Homo sapiens: one gene and its partners. The protein of the gene in region 2 purifies or fractionates together with the protein of the main gene of each other region. This does not show direct contact. Each region holds a gene or a part of one and is shown on either strand. Other genes may lie near its edges.

What was found.
Region 1: the proteins of VIPR2 (region 2) and RABGAP1 purify together in Homo sapiens (co-immunoprecipitation; 3 studies listed by BioGRID and IntAct, with this or other methods). This does not show direct contact.
Region 3: the proteins of VIPR2 (region 2) and VPS8 purify together in Homo sapiens (co-immunoprecipitation; 3 studies listed by BioGRID and IntAct, with this or other methods). This does not show direct contact.

Annotation. Positions count from the first base shown.
Region 1 is NC_000009.12:122,936,652-122,944,034, forward strand, and holds the start of RABGAP1 (rab GTPase-activating protein 1), read left to right. Parts: upstream 1-4,368; 5' UTR 4,369-4,442; intron 4,443-4,487; exon of another isoform or gene 4,488-4,597; intron 4,598-7,383. UniProt on the Homo sapiens protein: May act as a GTPase-activating protein of RAB6A. May play a role in microtubule nucleation by centrosome. May participate in a RAB6A-mediated pathway involved in the metaphase-anaphase transition.
Region 2 is NC_000007.14:159,141,861-159,149,794, forward strand, and holds the start of VIPR2 (vasoactive intestinal polypeptide receptor 2 isoform 1 precursor), read right to left. Parts: upstream 3,008-7,934; 5' UTR 2,912-3,007; coding exon 2,861-2,911; intron 686-2,860; coding exon 586-685; intron 1-585. UniProt on the Homo sapiens protein: G protein-coupled receptor activated by the neuropeptides vasoactive intestinal peptide (VIP) and pituitary adenylate cyclase-activating polypeptide (ADCYAP1/PACAP).
Region 3 is NC_000003.12:184,807,910-184,815,180, reverse strand, and holds the start of VPS8 (vacuolar protein sorting-associated protein 8 homolog), read right to left. Parts: upstream 3,016-7,271; 5' UTR 2,956-3,015; exon of another isoform or gene 2,895-2,955; intron 2,675-2,894; exon of another isoform or gene 2,392-2,674; intron 1,437-2,391; exon of another isoform or gene 1,314-1,436; intron 1-1,313. UniProt on the Homo sapiens protein: Plays a role in vesicle-mediated protein trafficking of the endocytic membrane transport pathway.

The DNA of each region.
Region 1 (7,383 bases), on a different chromosome or scaffold from region 2:
GTTGATGACTGAAGTGCAGGTGCAGAGGCAGGTTGCCACTGTTTTGACCCCCCACCAGCTGAACCTCTTTCCAAGGGTTTTAAAAGAATAGCACCTGTTTTGTTTGTTTGCTTCCCTTTTACTCCATTTATGAGTCAGATATTGAAGGATTAGGATATTCAAAAGCAATCACTTAGGCAGGGGAAAGTAGAAAGCTACTGCATATAACCAGGGAAAGACACAGGCTAAGAAAAGACCTGAGAAAACCTTAAGCTTTCACCCGAGGCTGATCCTGATCCCCAGCACAGAGACAATTACAAAAGCCCAGCAAACATGGGGGCAGGAGAATCTTATTTTCAGATTCACCACATTATGAGATTCAAATGTTCAATTTTCAACAACAACAAATCATAAGGATTTAAAGTGAAGCCAAATGTGGTGGCATGTGGTTGTAGTCCCACTTAATTGGTTGTTACTGGGCAACATAGTGAGACCCCATCTCTAGTTGAAAAATAAAATTTTTAAAAAAATCACAAGACATACAAATAAACAGGAAAGTATGGTCAATTCAGAAGAACAAAATAAATCAACTCAAACTATTCCCACAGAAGCCAAGATAGATGTCTGAGTTAATAGACAAAGGCTTTAAAACAACTATTTTGAAGTCGTTCGAAGAACTAACAGGGCTGGGCGTGGGGTGGCTCACGCCTGTAATCCCAGCGCTTTGGGAAGCCAAGGTGGGCAGATCACCTGAGGTCAGGAGTTCGAGACCAGCCTGGCCAACATGGTGAAACCCTGTCTCTACTAAATACAAAAATTAGCTGGGCATGGTGGCGTACGCCTGTAATCTCAGCTTTTCAGGAGGCTGAGGGAGGAGAATTGCTTGAACCTGGGAGGCGGAGTTTGCAGTGAGTTGAGTTCCTGCCACTGCTCTCCAGCCTGGGTGACAGAGTGAGACTCTATCTCCAAAAAAAAACAAACAAACAGAAAAAGGACTAAAGGAAGACATGAACAAAGTCAGGAAAACAATGTATGAATAAAATTAGACTATCATTAAAGAGAAATTATAAAAAGGAGCTGAGGCCAGGTGTGATGGCTCATGCCGGTAATCCCAGCACTTTGGGAGGCCAAGGCTCGTGGATCATGAGGTCAGGAGTTCGAGACCAGCCTGGCCAACATGGTGAAACCTCATCTCTACTAAAAATACAAGAACTAGCTGGGTGTGGTGGCATGCCTGTGTTCCCAGCTACTCAGGAGGGTAAGGCAGGAGAATCACTTGAACCCAGGAGGTGGAGGTTGCAGTGCACCCAGATTGCACCACTGCACTCCAGCCTGGGTGACAGAGCGAGACTCTTAGAAAAAAAAGGAGCTGAAATGAAATTCTAGACCTGAAAGATACAGTAACTGAAATGAAAAATTTACATAGAGGGGTTCAAAAACAGATTTGAATGAGCAGAAGAAAGAACCAGCAAATTTGAATATATTTCTTTGTAAAATACCCGCGGAACCCTGTTCCTTCGTTTTACCTCCTGCTTCCTTAGCTCAAGCCTTCCTCATCTTAGGCAGCCTCCAAACTATTCTATCAACCTCCCCTTTTCCCTGCTCTAGTTTTACTAGAGTGATCTTTAAAAAAACCCCAAATCTAATATTGTCACTGTCCTTTAAAATATCCAAGGGCACCCGTGTGTCTATAGAGTGAACTTCAGTTTCCTTATTTTAGCATTCAAGGACCTTCCTATTTTGGCTCCAGCCTACTACATTGCTTTATTTCACACCAGCCCCACATTCCATTCATATACTGTAACCACATTTTCTTGGGTACAAAGTCACTTACTGAAAAAAAGTTGAGCATATTTGGAAACCAAAATTCATTTTCTGTGAATGGGATATCAATATATAGCATTGGTAGGCATTGAAACAGACTATAGTCTATTTTTAAAATGGATTAGATGATAAAAACAACATGTATGTCATCACTAATCCAGTGGTCAATATTAGCATAACTCTGTAAGATACAATAAATGTTATATCTATTGTAGATACAATGTTATGTATCTAACATAATATCTAACATGTTAGATTCATAACGTTGTATGTAATATAATGAAACATGAAGTATAACCTGTCACTTGTGAGGTATACTAGTCTGATATGTTTGACTTGAATCCACTGAGTCTTCAAATATAACTTTCTTGTTCAAGAAATACAAGGCTTGCAGGAACAAGCTCAATGACTTCATGAGGAAGCAACCACTCAGATAAAAACATTTTGCACTTCAAGTGGCCTGATTTCTACAGTGAACAAGAATCTTTTAATTTTTTTTTAAGTGCCATAATTAAAAAGTCAAGGGATGTAACCAGATGGAATGTATGGTCCTGAATTGGATAATTTGGGTATACTGGTTGTAGAAAAATATAATTTGGTCAACAGAATATTTGATTGTAGTTAGGTATTATGTGAGAGGAAATTTTCCTGTAACATTACTGAGTTAAGAAAGCCAACTGTAAAAATAACTTTAGATGGATAGAAAATGTGAATGTGATCTAGGAATTAGGTGAGAAGAAAATGTACTGAAATAAGGTAGATATTTTTAATTGAAAAAGGAGATGACTAAAGTGATCTCATTTTGAAAAAAAAAATACACACACACAGAAGGATATACTCTAAAGTATTAACATTGGCCCTGGGAATGCCATGGTTTTTTTTTGTTTTTCATTAAAACATAGAGACACGGTCTCACTATGTTGCCCAGGCTGGTCTCGAACTCCTAGGCTCAAGCCATCCTCCCACCTCAGCCTCCCAAAGTGTTAAAATTACAGGCATGAGCCACCACACCTGGCCTTTTTTATTAAAAAAAATTTTTTTTAAATGCAATGTTTTCTTTTTTTGTTGTTGTTTTAGCTTGTGTCTATTCTCCAAAGCATGTTGTACTGATTGTGTAGTACAATTTTATTTAAAAATGTATGTTAAGATTTACATAAATATTTGGGGTGTCCATGAATCAAGAAATACATGAAAGTATGGGCACCAAAACGTTAAAAGTGGTTTTGTTGGGAGTTCAGGGGATTTTACTTTCTCCCTAATACTTTATTCTTTGAATATCTTGAAATGGATATTTTGTAACTGTATAAGGAGAAAGGAAGCGAAACTATTTTTCTGCAGGGGTACACCCACATCTATTGTATTAGACAAATCACAGAGGGATTGCAACAGAACACAGATTTTTCTCACTGTTTTTTCTCTGGTTGATCGGGATGCATTATCCACCAGAAAACACTGTAGACGACTCACTCACCAGGAAAAGAGCATATGCCAGTTGGAATAAATAAAGGGGAAGAGTAAGGAAGAGGCTGTAGAATTATTTTATAAATTATCAAGTCTTATGAGCCAGGTGCAGTGGTGCATGCCTATGTACAGTCCCAGCTACTCAGGAGGCTGAGGTGGTAGGATAGCTTGAGCCCAGGAGTTCGAGGGTGGAGTGTGATATGATCGTCTGTGAATAGCCACAGCACTGCATCCTGGACAAGATAGGGTCTCTTTAAAAATAAGACTTAACTAGCACTTTAATAATCATTGTTTTTGTTCCCAACTGCATTGTACATTCATTGAGGACAGGGACTTTAAACTTCATTATATTGCTGTTGCTGTGTTTCACCTTTGAATGATTTTTAAATAAAAATCTCATCTTTGAGTCACAATCTGATGTAACCTTGTCCATTTCTGTCCTCTTGTGTGCCTTAAATGCCTTTAGGCAGCTGTGTTGTACCAGTGGTTTTAGGACTTGGCAGTCGGAAGTTTTGACTTCTAGACTGGATTCTGTAACTAAAGCTAAATTACTTTATAAAAGGAGAAAAATGGTACCATTCTGACGGGTTTGTGGTGAAGCTGAAATGAGATAGCCACATAAAGAACCATCACAATCCCTGACACACCGTGCGCCCTCAGTAAATGCCAGGTGAATTTTATTACACTGTGAAGTACTGATTTTCAAACAGGACTTGCACATGAAAGGTGAGCAGGGGGATTCCTTGCTCAAGCACCAGTACTCTGGGGTTGTACCCTTTGTTAGGCTCAACAGGTACTACCCAGTCCGCTTCCATCGTCCCCAGTCCCGGCTGCAGTCACGTAGTTGGCTGTCCAACTCCAAATACACAAGACAGCCCAGGTCCAGCTCACAGCCAGTGCACTTCGCGCAGGCGCACAGTCCTGAGGCGGGCTGAAAGCCCAGGTGGGGCTCGGAGAAGAGGAAGCTCCGCCTCGCTTCCCGGTATTGGGCCAATAGGGTCGCTCGTCATGGTCGCAGACCTATGAGACGGGGCAGGGGGCGGGGCGGAGGGCGGAAGAAGTCGCTCTCACGTGAGTAAAGGGGTGGGGGGGCGGGGACAGGGCGGTTTGGGAGGCCCAGGCGGCGGAGCCTCCGGGACGGCGAGCGGCGGGCGGCGGAGGAGGAGACGGCAGGTCGGGTAGGGCCGTGTTTCCCCTCCTCCTCCTCCCACCCTCCTACCTACCAACCCCAGGGGTATTTTCCGACGGCCCCTGCGGGGAGCCAAGCTGTCTTCTCATCCCGCGGGGTCGGGCCAGTGGAGCTGCTCTCAGCTCCCTCGACGGGCCGAGTTCTGAGGGGAGCCGTGATTGGGGGGAGGGGGAACTGCGACGGAGGGGAGAGGGCGCATGCGCAGGCTGGGCCGCTCTGGGAGCCCCTGCCCAAACCGGTTCCCCCTGTCTGTGTGGGTGCCGGTCTTCTGAGTCTTGCGTTTTTGGCCCTCCCTCTGGTCCCCCAGCAAAGCCGGTTTGTGTCTTGACTTTAATGTTTTATGCTTGGTCCTATTTGGGAATCCAGCCGCTCCCCCCCGCCTCAGTTTCTCCCCATTGCTCACTAGGCCTGTATCTGTGACTTAAGCTAGCCTGGGCCTCAGGCTGTCCTGGGCTGCGCCTAAATTTCAAAGACTTGCTAGTTTTCACTGTCGCTTTGCCATCTCAGGTTGGTCTTTCAGTCTCATTTCCCCGTCTGCAATTAAAGCGTTCTTGGCATCCCAGTCTTCTCATCTCCTTGAAGCAGCTACCCCAGTACCTCATCGCTGTGTCTTTTGATTATCCGCACCCTTAGGGTTTTACGTGTTGAGCCAAAGGATAACCTCAAGACTTCCAGGAGTTCGCTGTCCATTGCCTGGTAGTACTTTGGTCTCTGCTCTTCTGCATCCAGACTGTTTATCATCTGCTCCTGCGTTTCACGCATCTGCATACCTTTGGTTACTCGAGAATTCTTTTTTGGAAACAAATGTCCTAGGAGACCGTGTTAAGTGATCATGCTGCTAGTGTTCCCGCTACTAGTGCTCCGTTAGTTTTAAATCATGTTCCAACTTGAATTTGAGGTCTTTTGACTTTCGTTGGCTTTTTGTCAGGGAAAAAAACCTGTTAGGGACAGGGTTTCACAATTCCTTTTATATTTCCATTCACATGTATTTACAAACGTGTGCCTGGAGTAGTAAGTACACAATAAGTGAGTTTCCAGCTGTTTTTGTTTCGGAAACAAAAAACAAAACAAAACAAAACAAAAAAACAACGGAAGGTGAATGGAATTGTGTTTGTAACATTAAACTGATGTTTGAAAAGTAGTTGGGAAAAAAAGCTTAGGTACTAAGGAGGGTTCATCCAACTTTTTTTTAAACGAAGGACGTGTTGCCTTAGTTCAAGTTTGTATAAGGTGCTATTTAATATGTATTGAAGACTTAACTAGAGCTTACTTATGAAAACTGAAAATAGGGGCCGGGTGCGTTCACGCCTGTGATCCAGCATTTTAGGAGGTTGAGGCGGGTGGATCACAAGGTCAGGAGTTCGAGACCAGCCTGTCCAATATGGTGAAACCAGGTCTCTACTGAAAATACAAAAATTAGACGGGCGTAGTGGCAGGCGCCTGTAGTCCCAGCTAATCGGGAGGCTGAGGCAACAGAATCGCTTGAACCCGGGAGGCAGAGGTTGCAGTGGGCCGATATTGTGCCATTGCACTCCAGTCTGAGCAACAGAGCGAGACTCCGTCTCAAAAAAAAAAAAAAAAAAACACAAAAAAACAAAATAGGGAAGAGAAGTCTTTATAAATCTTCCTGTGTAGAGTTCACTTTGTATTAATAAAATTTCAATCCATGATTGATTTTTATGTATTGGTAACATTTAAAATTCATATGTAATTTTAATTCAAGATATTAACTCAGATTCATAATTAAAGTTGAAATATTTGTGGCGTGAGGTGATTCATGCTTGTAATCCCAACACTTTGGGAGTCTGAGGTGGGAGGACTACTTGAGTTGAGAAGTTCAAGACTGCAGTAAGCTATGATGGGTGCCACTGCACTCTAGCCTGGGTAACACAGCCAGTTCCCATCAAAAAATAAAAAATAAAAAAACAACAAAAAATCTGAGATATAGTCATGTTGTGGTGCACTTTCTTTTTTTTTTTTTTTTTTTTTTTTTTTTTGAGACTGAGTTGTGCTCTTGTTGCCCAGGCTGGAGTGATCTTGGCTCACTGCAACCTCCGCCTCCTGGGTTCAAGGAACTGATTCTCCTGACTCAGCTTGGGATTACAGGCGTGTGCCACCACGCCTAGCTAATTTTTTGTATTTTTACTAGAGACGGGGTTTCATCATGTTGGCCAGGCTGGTCTTGAACTCCTGACCTCAGGTGATCCACCTGCCTCAGCCTCCCAAAGTGCAGGGATTACAGGCGTGAGCCACTGCGCCCGGCCACACTTTCTTTTAATTGAGTGTTATGATTCAGTTTACAGTTAACGCATTGACATTAATAGGTATATATTTGTTTGGAAAGTTAACCTATCAGCTATGTGCATTTTGGCATTTTTGGCATAGTATTTTGTTTGCAGTTTATAAGAGTTGTAGTAATGTAGTGGGAACAGAGACACCTGTTTCCTACCTTTTCTGCTGCATATTGAGAGAACTGTATTATGCACTTTATCTACATGAGGGGCATGGTTTTCCACACAATTTATTAACTGAACTTTGTAGCCCAGCTTCTTTTAAAGAAGTCTGTTGGCTGGGCGCGGTGGCTCACGCCTGTAATCCCAGCACTTTGGGAGGCCAAGGCAGGCGGATAACAAGGTCAGGAGATCGAGACCATCCTGGCTAACACTGTGAAACCCCGTCTCTACTAAAAATACAAAAAATTAGCCAGGCGTGGTGGCAGGTGCCTGTAGTCCCAGCTACTCGGGAGGCTGAGGCAGGAGAATGGCGTGAACCCGGGAGGCGGAGCTTGCAGTGAGCCAAGATCGCACCACTGCACTCCAGCCTGGGCGACAGAGTGAGACTCCGTCTCAAAAAAAAAAGAAGTTTTTGTTTTTTATTCAGTATATTTCCAGCTAAAGGAAAGCCTCCTTTGGAGGTCTCATTATTTCCCA
Region 2 (7,934 bases):
TATAGGCCGGGTGCTATCCCAGGGCAGAGTCTATAAACAGGTTGATAGCAGGCCCTGTTGGAGCATGATGGCCCAGCATGCCTCTGTCAAACCGGAGAAGGCGATCTGCACGTTCACAGTGTTCACCGCAGGCCCGTCTTCAGCACAACCAAAGTCCCATTTTCCTGTTTGCTTTCTGCCAAGTACCCACCATCCTTAACCAGATCAAAATCATCTGTCCTATAGCTAAGAATTTAAAATGCAAGAATTCAGATAAATGCTTATCCCCTGGAAAACTGAAGCTGCTTTTGCAAAGCATAACAAAGCCCATGAAATTGTTTTAGTAACTGTTGCTATCATCTCAAACCATGGAAACTGTTACTGCTAAGGATTAAGGTTATCTTTTTAAAGGTGTGTGTGAAGACCCTACCTATCCAACTCTCTCTGAGTTTTACCAGTAGTTCATTAACAAACAATGGGAAGTGGCCTTTCTTTTTCTTTTTTTTTTTTTAAGATGCAGGTGGTGACCCTGAACCACAGCTGAGTGAGGCGCATTCCCGGGTGAGAATGTCACGGGAGTTCTTACTCACCAAGCCTCTGCCTTACCTTTGTGTTTTTCTGTTTGAGACCTCAGAAGCTCTGCACATTTTGTTTCTTCCTCCTGTATTTCCAGATGAAATCGGCATTCTGGGTGAATGCTGTTCACCTGTTCACGGTTAAAAGAAATATTAATAACTAAAAATTCCACAAGAAGAAGAAAAGCAAGCAAAAATTCTACAAAAACAACCCCAAACCTCACAGCTTTAAACTGCTTCCAAACCAAAATGCATTTAAAACCAATCACCTTGATTTTTCTGGCATTTTTTAAAAACTTCACTATTTACTTTGTAAAGGTATTATAAAACAAACACAAAATCTAATAGAATTTTTTTTCTGAGCAGGAAAATGAACTTACTAACAGAATACATCGGTACTAATTTGGAGGCAACAGAGCTCTTTACTCCATTCATCTCTCCATACCCGGCTCCTCCGTTTCACACCCTTTGGTTTGGTTTAAGCGGATGCCTGTGGACTGTGCCGCTTCCTCCGAGGACGGCCTCCACCCGGGAAAGAGCCGTGATAGAAGGGCTTTATTTTTAAAGGTGTTGGTACATGTTCAAAGCTTAACCCTCTAACTACAGATAAAACTGCAATCGTTTTGACTAGAATTTGGGGTGGAAGAGATATTCAAAGAAATCAGCAAGATGAGGAGGGAGGCAGAGGTGGGGGAATCACACCATTGTGGCCCCACAGAGAAGAGGGGGCGATTTCCAGTCAGGATCCATCAGGGGAGCGAAAGGTGCCACAAAGATAGTAATTAACAGTCTACTAATGTGAGAAGAAGGCAGAACTACACAATGCTTCCTCTCAGAAGGCACCGTTTCTACCTTGTTCTTCACGCCCTCCGCGAAGTCAGCACAGGCCTGCCAAGCGGCCCTTGGGGGCTTAAGGAGGGCTCCCCCCACCCATCCTTTTGGTCTTGATCTTCCCCCTCCCCCACCACCGACCAAAATTCTACTTGTACTAAAGTAGTAACTAAAGAGAATCATACTGTTGGGCGTACTATGGCCATCTATGTTTAGTTATCTTACTATTGAAATGGTCAATGAGAGTTCCAACCAGGAACACAATATCCTAACAGAATTAAGGGGAAAACAATGCTGGAACTTCTGCCACCTTCAGCCCCATTTAAAAGAGCCCCGAGCTTGCTTCTTGCTCGTGACTGAACCAGCACCAGGCACTGACTTTGGGCTCCAAGTCCTCTGTTTTCATGCAGGACAAGTAAGTGGCTTAAATTTCAGAATTAAGGAAATTATATTGATGTAAAAAGAAAAACTTTGTTAAAGTGTAAAAGACATTAATAATACCTGACGTTCCTGGAATATGCACAGCAATGACTTCTTTTAGGACATTTTAGCAATGAAAGCAGCATTAACCGTGATAAAACCCGTTACTTTCCAAGGACCCGCTCCGCAAAGCGCCCACCCTCGAGGGAGGAAAGCCGAGCTGCGCCTCCGCGCAAGGCCAGGGAGTGTGGCTCGAGCCCCGCTGCAGACCGGGCGTCGCCGGTTAATCAATGACACTGTCGGGTCAGCAGCGCAGCCTCCCAGCTGCGGAGGGGCCGCGGATCGATCCAGACCTGCCTCGGCTGCGACGCGCACGAAAACCGCGCGCACCGCAAACCCGCTTCAGTCTCCAAGAGGAAAGCAAGAAACAAGGCTCGGGTTTTTTTCTTTCTTTTTTCTTTCCTTTTTTTTTAAGGTTCACAGAGGGAATAATTCAGAACTCCATGTGCGAAGGCACTTAATCAACAAACTTATGAGCAGTTAGTTCCTCCAGTGCCCTTGGGAAAAAGCAACTATTTCCAAAAGGAAACTTTATTTAACCGACGCCACGTCCCCCCGACACTAAAACTAACCAGTAAGTACAGGGAGGGACCGAGAGGCATCTGCGGCCAACGCCAACCCCGATCTCCCCGTGAAACGCGCAGCCCGCGCAGGCGCCCGCAGCTCCCAGCTCCCGGGACGGCCCCGAACGAGCTCATCGTTGACGCGTCCAGGAAGAAACGATCCCGTTTCCAGCAAACCCCGGACGGTGGGGCGCGGGGAAGGGCGCAGGCAGCCTCCCAACCCGAGTCCCGCAACCCGGCGGGACCGGAGCTCAGCGCTTCACGCTCTCCGGGAGGAAGCTCCGGACCCCGGGCGACCCCGCTCCCTCTCCCGGACCCCGCCCGCGCTCCAGCACCCGGGAGGAAGGCGAAGACCGGCGGGAGGAGCGCTCTTCTCGGAAGGGGAGAACCGGGTCCGAGGCGCCGTGGGGCGGGGGTCGCGGGCGCACTCACGGGGGCGAGCAGCCAGCAGGTCAGCAGCGCGGGAGGCAGCAGCGTCCGCATCCCGAGCTCAGCGTGCCGGGGGCCGCCCAGCGCCCGCCGCCTCCGTCCTAGGTCCCCGCGGTTCCGCCGCCTCCAGCATGGGCCGGGAGCGAGTGCGCGGAGACCTCGGGCCCCGCAGCTGTAGCCGAGCGCCCGAGCGCGGGGGCCGCCCCCTCCGTCCCGGCAGCTGGAGCGCGCTCAATGCACGCCCGTCCCCCACGCGCCCCGCCGCTCCGCCCCCCGCCCCTGTCCCCGCCCCGCGCTGCCCCAATCCTCGTCTCCCTCCTCCCCCGAGAACCCCCGCTCCGCGCCCCTCCTCACCGCCCCCCACTTCCCCTTCCGCTGCGCCCCGCGCCCTCTCCTCGCCCCTGGGCTCTCTGTCCCCGCCGCGCGCGCTCCCTCTGGTCTCCTCGACCCCCCCAGCCTCTCTCTCCGTTCTCCTCCCCTCTTCCCTGGCCCACGCCCCCCTCCCGGCCGCGCCTCCCCGATCTGTGGGCGGAGGGGCTGGGAAGCGGGGTGCTCAGTGCGCGCCCGGCTCCGAGTAGAGAGAACTGGGGGAGAGCGGCCGGCGCGGGGCCGGGAGAGGAGGACCGGGCCAGGTGTGCGCTCGGAAGGGGCGGATGCCTTTGCGGCCGCCTGTACCTGCCTTTCTAAACAACTGCGGAAGCCCAAGAAAGCGGCCAGAGACCCGTCCGGGGTGGGCGCGCCGTCTTTGTAGCCAGTGGGGCTAGGTTGGGGCATCTGAAAATGGAGAAAATCAGAGTGCTTTTTGGTGGGGATCCCCGCAGCCTCAAAGAGGACATCAGGTCGAACAGAAAGCTGGAGAAAAACGCAGACGGGGGTATAGGTGGGTCCCAGCCTCAGCTGGGTGGCGGGTTTTGTGTCCTGCGTTTGCAAAACGGGGGTCATTCTCTCCCCGCAAACGCGGCGGCGGGTGGGGAACGCTGGGCGGGGACTCACGCGGTGCCACTGGGGCCGCCCCGCCGCGCCCCACGCGGGACTGCGCGGCCTCCCAAGGCGCCCGCGTGACCAACCCAGGAGAGCTCGGCGTTCCCCAGCAAGTGGAAAGCACTGGAATGAGAGATACAAGTTAAGTTCGTGTTGTTTTAATTTTTTATTTGGAAATAATTTCAAACTTACACAAAAATTAGAAGAATAAGAATATTACAAATAACTCCTTTTTATCCTTTTTGTGGATTCGGTCATTAACATTTACCTCATTGGGCTTATCATTTGCTTCTCTCTGATCCCCCACCCCCCGTATTCACAGATATCGATTTTTCTATCATCTGATGTTTATCATCCACATTATCTATCATCTACCTATCCATCATCTACGTATCATCTATCGATCTGTCATGTACCTATCATCTATCATCTTCCTATCGATCATCTATCTGTAATCTGTCATCTATTATCTGTCATCTATCATCTACCTGTCCATCATCTACCTTTCATCTATCCATCTGTCAGGTATCTATCATCATGCGCCTATCATCTATCATCCACCTTTCCTCTATCACCTACCTGTCATCTATTATCTATGATCTATCCATCTATTATGTACCTATCATCTATCATTTGCCTATCTTTCATCTGTAATTTACCTATCTATAACCTGTCATCTACCTATTTATCATCTATCATCTGCTGTCATTTATGATCTATCCATCTATCATGTACCTATCATCTCTGTATCATGTATCAATCAGCTATCATCTACCTATCATCTCTCTGCGATCTATTACCTATCTATTACCTACCATCTACCTATTTATCATCTATCATCTACCTCTCTGTCATTTATCTATGATCTGTCATGTACCTATCATCTATTATCTTCCTATCGATCGTCTATCTGTAATCTATCATCTATTATCTGTCATCTATCATCTGCCTATCCATCATCTGTGATCCGGCATATCTGTGATCTACCTGGCTGTCATCTATCAATCACCTATCATCTGCCTATCTGTCATCTGGCTGGCATCTATCAATCACCTATCATCTGCCTATCTGTCATCTGCCTGTCATCTATCAATCTATCATCTGCCTATCTGTCATCTGCCTGTCATCTATCAGTCTATCATCTGCCTATCTGTCATCTGCCTGTCATCTATCATCTGCCTATTTATCATCTATCTGTGATCTATCATATCTGTGATCTGCCTGTCATCTATCAGTCATCTATCATCTGCCTATTTGTCATCTATCTGTGATCTATCATATCTGTGATCTGCCTGTCATCTATCAGTCATCTATCATCTGCCTATCTGTCATCTGCCTGTCATCTATCATCTGCCTATTTGTCATCTATCTGTGATCTATCATATCTGTGATCTGCCTGTCATCTATCAGTCATCTATCATCTGCCTATCTGTCATCTGCCTGTCATCTATCATCTGCCTATTTGTCATCTATCTGTGATCTATCATATCTGTGATCTGCCTGTCATCCATCATCTGCCTGTCATCTATCGATCATCTATCATCTGCCTATCTGTCATCTGCCTGTCATCTATCCTCTACCTGTTATCTATCTGGCTTCATCCATGTGTATCTAGTGGGAGACGAGGAGAGGGAGACCTGGGCCTTAGGCGGGCTGCTTGGCTTGTGAAGAAAGCTCGTGGCGCTGGGTGCCTTCGACAAACGCATCTTTTTCTCCCGGTTCCACCTGGGTGAGCGATGAACTTTGAGCTCTATGCATTTGTAGGAATGACAGCACCTGCCCTTCCACCGCAGAGGGGCTCTGTAATAATCAAGGTGATTAATGCACACGTCAATACCTTGTTGAGGGCCTGCATTTTAGAAGTGACTGTCCAGGGTGCAGTGAGGGGTTGCATGATGGGTGAGTCTTCCCCTGCAGCAGTGCGTCCCGATGGACGGGGTAGACCAGGAGAAATGGCTGTGGTCGTAGCTAGATGGCACACTTCTCTGAAGGTCCAGTGTGTGTGTAATCACGGGCTTTGCTGAACACCCCAAACCCTGCGGTTACCTGATGCTCTTAGAAAAATGACCAAAGTTCTCAATATGCCTTTGTAAACAAAAGATAAAATTCTAAGCCCCCCAACCAACTTAATGGACTCCCCTCTTGGCCAAAGGGATCCCAAAGAAACCTGAAAAACGAGTTCAGGCCATGACAGGGAGAGGGGGTTGGGCAGGCCTCACTACACCCTCCTTTCCTGGAGTTCATGACCAACATTAACATAAAAACAGAGCTCCTAAGGCTGACCAAACAGACTGTTCATAGCAATAAGATAGCAAATTCCCACCAGACTCTAGTAGAGCATCACATGACGGCCAGCAGGCCCTGAAGAAATATATTTCTTTGACAGATTTTGAAATGGCCCAGCAAAGCTGTCTGTTGGGGAATCTTGCACTCTGTGGAGAATCCCTGTCCGTCACTAGGTCTTTCTGGAGAGTCTGACACCTTTCAAGGCCCTGATAGTAGACATTCACATTCACTCTCTCTGAAGCCTGCTAGCCGGAGGCTTCATCCACAAGAACCTTGGCTTCCACAACCCCCTTTATTTTCACTCAAGCTGATATCAAGTCTTCAGGCAGATCTTAACTCTGTTTTACCCAACGGCCAATCAGGAAATCCTGTAATCCACCTGTGACCTGGAAGGCCCCACACCCCGCTTCAAGATGTCCCACCTTTCTGGGCCAAATCAATGTATACCTTCCAGATATTGCTTTATGTCTTTTCTTGTAACTTCAGTCTCCCTAAAATGTATAAAACCAAGCTATACCCTGTCACCTTGGGTGTGTGTTCTTGGGACCTCCTGAGGCTGTGCCCTGGGCCATGTCCTTAACCTTGGCAAAAATCAACCTCTAAGTTGATTGAGACCTGCCTCAAATACATTTTGGTTTACACCTTTGAACAGGCAACCACCTGCCATGCTGGGCCTGGCCTGGCTTTGCCCATTGCCCCAGCGTAACCGTTACTCGTGTCCCCCTATTCTTGGAAATGTCCTGGTTTGGACATATTATGTGAAGCACATGGTCACCCTACATGCGAGGCCACACCTGATCTGGGCCTGAGTCTCCTCCTGGACCCGTCTCGCAGCCTCCACTCTGCCTCTCATGCCTCAGCCTTGCTGATCTCTGGAAGCCCCAGGCACGCTCCGCCCCAGGCACCCTCCACCCCAGGCACATGCCTCCCAGCTTCCACCTGTCTTGGCTCAGGTGTCTGCCTTAGGAAAGCCCTCCCAGTCTGGAGAAGCATCCTGCCTTTCCTCGCTGGGGCAAAAGCAGAGACCCTTGGACATATCTAAGCAGAGTTTAGTGCCAGGCCAGCCGGGGACCCTACTCAGCTCAGCAGGAGGCTCAGCGATGGAGGCAGAGCAGCTGGAAGAACATCTCAGATGGTTTGTCCAAGAGACGGGCACACACCAGTGCGTGCCGCAGCCTGCCCGGGTCCCCCTCCCACCCCAGGCAGGCACACACCAGCGCATGCCATAGCCCTGCCCGGGCCCCCTCCCACCCCAGGCAGGTGGGGCTCACAGAGACAGGCCACCAGCCTCTCCCTTCTGCTTCTGACCAGTTCTTCCAGGAGGTGTCTCTTTCTCCTCTCCTGGGGCCCTGACTGTTGCCATCCTCCAATTTCTCAGACCAACCAGGCTCAGAGTTCTTTAAACTTCCCTTTACAAGGAGGTGTTGCCACTTTCTTGGAGAACTATTCTTAGCTTAATATAATATGATGCGATAGGATACAATATTTAGAGAGATTATTTGATGTCTGCCCCTCCAGTGAATGCCCAGCATTGTGGGTTTGTACAGCAGGTGTTCCCTGTTTGTTGATGAGCAAGTGGGCAGATGTATGAGTTACTCCTGGTTCCACTCACTCCAGTCTGGAGGGTTCAGCCAGCGGCTGCCAGGACAGCAGGGCCCCACCCTGAGCACTCGCCCTCAAGCCCAGCCCAGAGCCCACGCTTCGGCTCCACAGGCAGGGAGCAGGTCAGTGGGGCTGCCCTCCAGACCCTTCCCCTCGCCAGGGCGTCCTCACTTTCTGGGTTATGCTCTCCTCTCTGATTCCCTTTCAA
Region 3 (7,271 bases), on a different chromosome or scaffold from region 2:
AATTAGCTGTAAAACAGTTTCAGGCAGGTCCTTCAGGAGGTATTCCAGAAGGCACTGTTATCATAAGAGATGACAGTTCCCTATGTGTTACTGCCTCTAAAGACATTCCACCGGGACCTTCCTGACTCTGTGTAGGCCTAGAGTAATGTGTGTGTTTGCGTCTTCGTTTTTAAAGATTAAAATTTTTTGAAATAGAAAAAAGCTAACAGAATAAGGATATAAAGAAAATATTTTTGTACAGCTAATTGTACAATGTGTTTGTATTTTAAGCTAAGTTTTATCACAAAGAAGTTAAAAACTTTTTTAAATTAAAAAGTTTATAACATAAAAGTTACATTACAGTAAGCTAAGGTTAATTTATTATTGGAGAAAGAAAAAATTTTTAATAAATTCAGTGTAGCCTAAGTGTACAGTGTTCAAAAAGTCTACAGTAGTGTACAATAATGTCCTAGGCCTTCACACTCACTCACTACTCACTGCCTCACCCACAGCAACTTCCAGTCCTGCAAACTCCATCCATGGTAAGTGCCCCACACAGGTTCACATTTTTCAATCTTTTAAACTGTATTTTTACTGTACCTTTTCTATGTTTAGATATACAAATACTTGGCCATTGTGTTACAACCACCTACAGTATTCAGTACAGTAACATGCTGTGCTGGTTTATAGCCTAGCAGCAACAGGCCATCCCACATAGTCTAGGTGTGTAGCAGACTACACCATCTAGGTTTGTGTAAGTACACTATGATGCATGCACAATGACAAAATTTGCCTAACCACACATTTCTCAGAACATATCCCCTAACTGTCCCATGACTGTAACAGGAAGAATGAGGCTTGCAATTACAGTTGCAGAGGAGATAGGGAACTGGGGGTTACTGGTCCTTTGCAGAAAGGGAGAGAGACACAAGTACTCCATCACTGGAGTCACTGGATTTAGTGATATAGTGATACCCCAGCCCCTTCCAGGTTTGGAGCCAATAAATCCCTTTTAGCTTAAGCCCATTTGAATTTTCTGTCACTTGCAACAGAAATATCTTTGACTAAAAAAGTATAATTGCTATTACAGTAAACCTAAGAAATTCATAACAGTGAAAAATCCAACGCAAAGCTATATTTCCTTGCTAAAACACAGAACACATTTAATAATGTCATACAGCGTGAAGATAAGTCAAATATTCATTCAAGATTCAGTTAAGAATACAACAGTTTGATCTTACCACTATGTACCGATGACACCTACAGCTGTGGATCAAGAGAACATACGATCTAAACTCTATGAAAGCTATCAATAGATCCAAAGTTAAACATACTTCATTAAATTCAAAAGATCTTACTTCTCATTCACATACATAACTGACATTTTGTGTCACACTGGTTGAAATGTCAATGGAATAGTGAGATACAGCTAAGAATCACCAACATGTCCCAATATTCTGGAAGACAGAAAACATCCATCTGCTGACAATGGTCCAGATACGAAGCAAATATATTAAATATAAAGAAAAAATCAACATATTACTCTGTTAGAGCTCTGGAAAGAATTTTCTCACAAATGCCTCTTTGACCATATAAAGCCCAGTAGTTCAACGAATTTTTTTTCCATTTATCTTTATTGCATATTCTATGGAACAGGCCAGCTATTGCCAGAGGATTCAATACCTATTCTGTGCTTAAATTTAACCATGAGCAAACCCACGTCTTACACAAACATATGCAGATTCTCCATCCACATTTATATTAGATATACCTCAAACCCACACAGGCAGACATAGACATACACAGACAATTAACATGTAATTGTCTCCCAAATGCAGACATTTGGAGTAAGGTTTAGCACCACAAGCTAACATCCATGCTTGTTTTGCTTGGGTTTTGGGGTTTTTCAGTAGGGGAAAGTAGAGTATGGTAGAGGGTGGATGGTGCAGAGGCCAGAAGCCTTCCTATTCATTCTAACAAGAATCTAAGAAGTGGAGGGGGCCTGCTTATTTAAAGAAGGCTCCCCAGCTAGCTATTCCTGATAACCCACGGCCATGGAACCTCTCACCGATCCTACCTCCTCCCACCCTATCCTCCTGTAAAGCACCCCCATTTTGTACACCCAGACACTCTGAGCAGCTGTTTCCCTCCTTCCCCAGATGCCAAGCACAAAGAACTGGCCAAGGCACAGGAGTAGCCTCGAACTTCAGAGGCCCACCTTTCACCCTGCTGCCCTCACTCTGGTGCACAACTTGCACGCGGAGACAAACTGGAACCAGCCTCACAGGGTGCGCACCGATCCTAAGAGGTGGACACCCCATCTAAGCCTCAGGCTCAGGCACCTTGATATCAGTCCCTGGAGGCTAAAGGGGTCCACACCTGTTTCCCAGGCCCGACAGACCGGCTACACACCTGTTCCGCCCGGGAGTGGGGAGGGGCATGACACCCGCCGCCTAGGCTCACAGTCGGGGGAGCGGGCGCGCCAGTCCCTCAGCCTAATTGCCGCACGACTGTAACAGGACAGAATGAGGCTTGCAATTATAGTCGCAAAGTAGATAGGGAACTGAGGGGTTACTGGCCCTTTGCAGAAAGGGAGAGATACACAAATACATCACCGGAGTCACTGGATTTAGTGATACCTCAGCCCCTTCCAGGTTTGGAGCCAATAAATCCCTTTTTACTTAAGCCCATTTGAATTTTCACATTCATTTGGAACCAGTAAGTGGAAATTGCCCGACCCAGTTCCGGGCCAACGTACGACACGCCCCTCCACTCGAGAATCAACCCCGCCCGGCCCGTGGCTCGGGTCCGGTTAGCCCGTCAGGGGCTGCTCTGTTCGCTCCCCGAGGTCCCGCCGCTGTCGCGCGGGGAGGAGACGCCGAGGCTCAGAGACCTGTCGCGCGCTCTCCTCCTACCCTGAATACGGCCCCTCAATCCTGTCTCCTTCCACGGGCCCGCTCTCTGGAAACTCGTTACCTGAGCTTGCTGCCATTCCGGCCGTGGACCGCCGGCCCACGTGACCGCACCCACTGCTCTAGCCTCACGCACGCGCACTACCTACCACTGCGGGCAGCGCTTCCGCTTTCCTCCTCGCACTGCTCCCCCTCCTGGGCGGTCCGCGCCTCTTCACCACGCCCCTATTTAAAGGGCCAGAGATACGCCGTCTTCCCCCCTACGGAAAAAATGGGTGATTCACATCTTGAGGACCAAGAGAATGGAAACGTCGAAAGAGTAGCGCAGACAAATAAATAACAGTCCTTGAGGTGAGAGGAGAAAGCTCCTCCTTTAAGAAAGTGAACTTACTTGCAGCCAGCCCAGAAGGGAAGTTGATTCCCTGCCTTTTGGAGTTTGCAACCAGTAAATTTTTTTTAACTTTTTTTTTTTTTTAAAAGATGAACTCAGAATTGCCTATTTATTGTGTCAAATAAGTACAATAGGCACACACATACTAAAATACCAACTATTATCTTGTAATATATCATCAGTGTTGCTCCCCAAAATACATCTTAACACCAAAAATACAGGAGAAACATAGTCTCAAATAAAGGAAACATCTGAAAAATGAACAAAAACGTATGCTTATTTCTCTTATCGCTCCTGAAGAAAGGTGAAAGCTTTCAGAACAGACTGGTTTCTAGAGTCATCACTGTACGTAACATTAGCCCCAGGACACAGATTTTAGGCCTGCTGGGGGCTATATAGGTCAAGAAAACAGGAGGAAGAACACCAGAAGATACTCTTGGAAGGAGATACAGAAAATATTCGGTTGGGCAGACATTTTTGAGCATCAGCTAGGTTCACTAGACTTCTGGGCCTTCAGAAGACCCGAAGGTGTTGCCCTGTCCTCCAGGTATTTATTTTCTAAGAATTCAGTGTACAGACATAACAAAATACAAGGCAGGCTGTTTTGAGTAATATAAAGAAAGACATTGAACCACCATTTTCGCACAGACAGGGGGAAAGGGTGAAACACTCAAGGAAGGATGTGGTATCTTGTCAGGGCCTTGAAGGATTTCAGTAGCAGAGAGCAGGGAGAATGCCTAGCTGAGGGAAGGGTGGGATCAAAGGCAGTACAAAGCAAGTTTGGGAACTAGTTATTGGCCTGATGTAGCCGTGGTGTGGCCAGTGGCTTTCAACCTTCTTTTAATCATCCCTCACAGTAAGAAATACATTTCAGGCCAGGTGCGGTGACTCATGCCTGCAATCCCAGCACTTTGGGAGGCTGAGGCAGGTGGTCAGGAGTTCAAGACCAGCCTGACCAACATGGAGAAACCCTGTCTCTACTAAAAATACAAAAATTAGCCAGGTGTGGTGGCATGCACCTGTGGTCCCAGCTACTCGGGAGGCTGAGGCAGGAGAATTGCTTGAACCCAGGAGGCAGAGGTTGCAGCAGTGAGCCAAGATTGTGCCATTGCACTCCAGCCTGGGTAACAGAGTGAGACTCCGTCTCAAAAAAAAAAAAAGATACATTTCAGCCATGGCCTAGTATAAAAACACACACAGTATGCGCATATGTGTGAGTGTGCATTATAGATAGATAGATAGATAGATAGATAGATAGATAGATATGCTGAAACAGTAATTGCCCTTAGAGTGTACAATGCAACTTGGTATTTTCTATTCTATTCTCTTTTTTTAAGTGCTGGTTACTGAATTCATTTCAGTACTCAGTGATGCAGAGCAACCCATAGTTTGAAGACACTGGTGTAGTGTGTATTAGAGATGTGGTGGGCTATGAGGCTGGAAAGGCTAGGACCAGATCCAGGAAGACATTGCACGCTAAGCTGGGGTGTTCTGCTCTTCTGGTGAGAGTCTCCAGAGGAACTCGAGCAGAGGAGTGGCAAGATGATAGCTGTGCTTTAGAAGGCTGGAAACCGGCCTTTGGTTCTGAATATCACATTTTTCTAGTAAAGCTATTAAACTAGAGACTGTCTACAGAAGGATAAGCAAGCTGGTGAGACCAGAAAGCCTGTGTGACAGAGAACTTTTGAAAGTATCCAGAGGAAAAGAAATTAGCAGAAGTAGGGGAGAGCAGGGTCATAGGGGTGAGCAGTGGAAAGGTAGCTATTAGGTTGGTACACAAGTAATTGCGGTTTTTGCCATTACTTTAAAAAACTGACCCTTTTGAAATATCTCTGCAACACTCATAGACTTATTCTGAATAGCTGTAGAAAGAAAGCAAGCCTACGACCTGTGTATGGACGTTGCAGAGAGGCAGATTTCAACTTATAATAAAGAATATTTTAGGATGGTCCAGACTGACTCTGAGACCTCTCCAAAGTAACAGCCCTTTTATGTACCTCTGTTCACAGCAGGAAGTAATCTCAAATGCTATCCTTTCCAGGGCTGTTTGCCTTAATAATAATAAAAAAAAATGTGTGCTTATTGTAGAAAACTTGGAAAATTCAGGAAATATTTTAAAATAAAGCAGAAATTACCCACATCCCAGAAAAAGGCACTTATAGTTTTGGCTTATCCGTTGGATCTTTTTCTTTGTATATTTACATTTGTGACATAATAGAACTGCATAGAATATTTAGTTGTGTATTCTATATATTTATAGGATATATAGTTAATAATCCATCCTCTTTTTTTCACTATTATATCTTGAGCACTATCCACCATCACTAAAATTGTTCACAAATATTATTTGTCATGGCTACATAATTATTAATGATATAGTTTCATGTATTTCATTATTCCACTATTTTTGGACATATACAGGAGTTCCTATTTTTTACTGCTAACAAGAACATTGCCATGAATATCCTTACACATTATCTTTGCCCACATTTTAAAATTATTTCCTTCCTTAGGCTAGCAACCTATAAGTGGAATTACTGATTCAAAGGCTTTGAAAACTCTTAAGTCTGTGAATACCCGTGGTCAAACTGCCTTCCAGAAATGTCAGGCCAGTTTTCATTCTCACCAGAAGCTCTCAGTGGTGCCCATCACACGCACCCCCACTGGCATTTATTTTATCTTAAAAAAAAAAAGATTTGCCAATATGATAGATGAAATGGTCTCTCATTTTAACCTGTATGGGATTACTATTGGAGTGGAATATCTATATAAATTTATCAGCCCTTTATAATTATTCTGGGAATGCAGTTTCACTGCTGGATTTGTGATTGCAAATAGTACTGAGTGAATTGTTACAGACTTGTGAGGAAAAAAAAACAGAGAATGATGTTTAAAATAAATGATGTGGTCACACCAAGTTATAGGCAAATTATATTGTGGTGTGCTGCACTAACAAAGGGTAGTGGGAGAATTGAGTCATCACACAGTATTACAATATTCATGTGAATATTGGCTCCAGCAAAATATCATTCCTTATATTAAATCAAAATTGTAGATTTGCATTTCCTCATTTGGTAGTTTTGTTTGTATTCAATTTATTTTTTTAGTTTTATAGATGCATAAAATCTATAAAAATCAGGAGCTCTTAGTTTTGTGTTTGCATATATACATACACATATATGTATGCAACATTATAAAAAATTATAAGCTAACTCTAGATATCTGTGAGAATCTTTTCCCCTTACAAAGGATCTGAACGATATCCAAGTTTGAGAAACAGTGATACTGGAATTTCTTAAAGTTTCATTTGTACTTATCTAAACACAGGTATTGAGATTTTTTTGCAAGGCAAAATTTGCATCAGCTTATATATTGGAATTTTTCCATATAGAATAGTGTAATGATTTTCTTCTTTTTGGAAAGAGTACCAAAAGCTCTACTATGTTTGGGGTTCAGAGAGTATGTTTTGACTTAAAATGTACCATTCATCAGTTAACTTTCTACAGGTCAGTAAGACCTAGACAGAAGAATGTTTGTGTTTACTAAACTTGTAAGTAAGAGAAAGCAGTTGAGCAGATAGTGATTACAATGGAGCTTTTGTGAAGTGGTCTTAAGAGAAATTAAGCCAATGAGAAAAAAGGTTGCATGTGAGCTCTCAGAGCCTTGGGAAGCAGTGAGGGCTGGCCTGCGGGGTGCACAGGAGCTAGAAGAGGGCGCCACTGAGGGCTGCCACAGTTGGATGGTGTCCTTACACCGGCTCTATTGCCTCCAGCTCTCCCCAAGAGTGAAGGATGCAGACCTCGACCCAGACATCACTATTACCCCTGCATCTAGAATAAGCCACATCTCTTCTGAAGGAAAAAAATGTCTGTTCCTGAGAGCAAAAGGCAGAGAATAGGAGATGGATGCCTTTGTCATTTCTTTTTTGCTCACAATCACAAAATAAACTGGCCTCTTTTCCTTTTTTAAAAAGGGAACTTGTTGGAGCA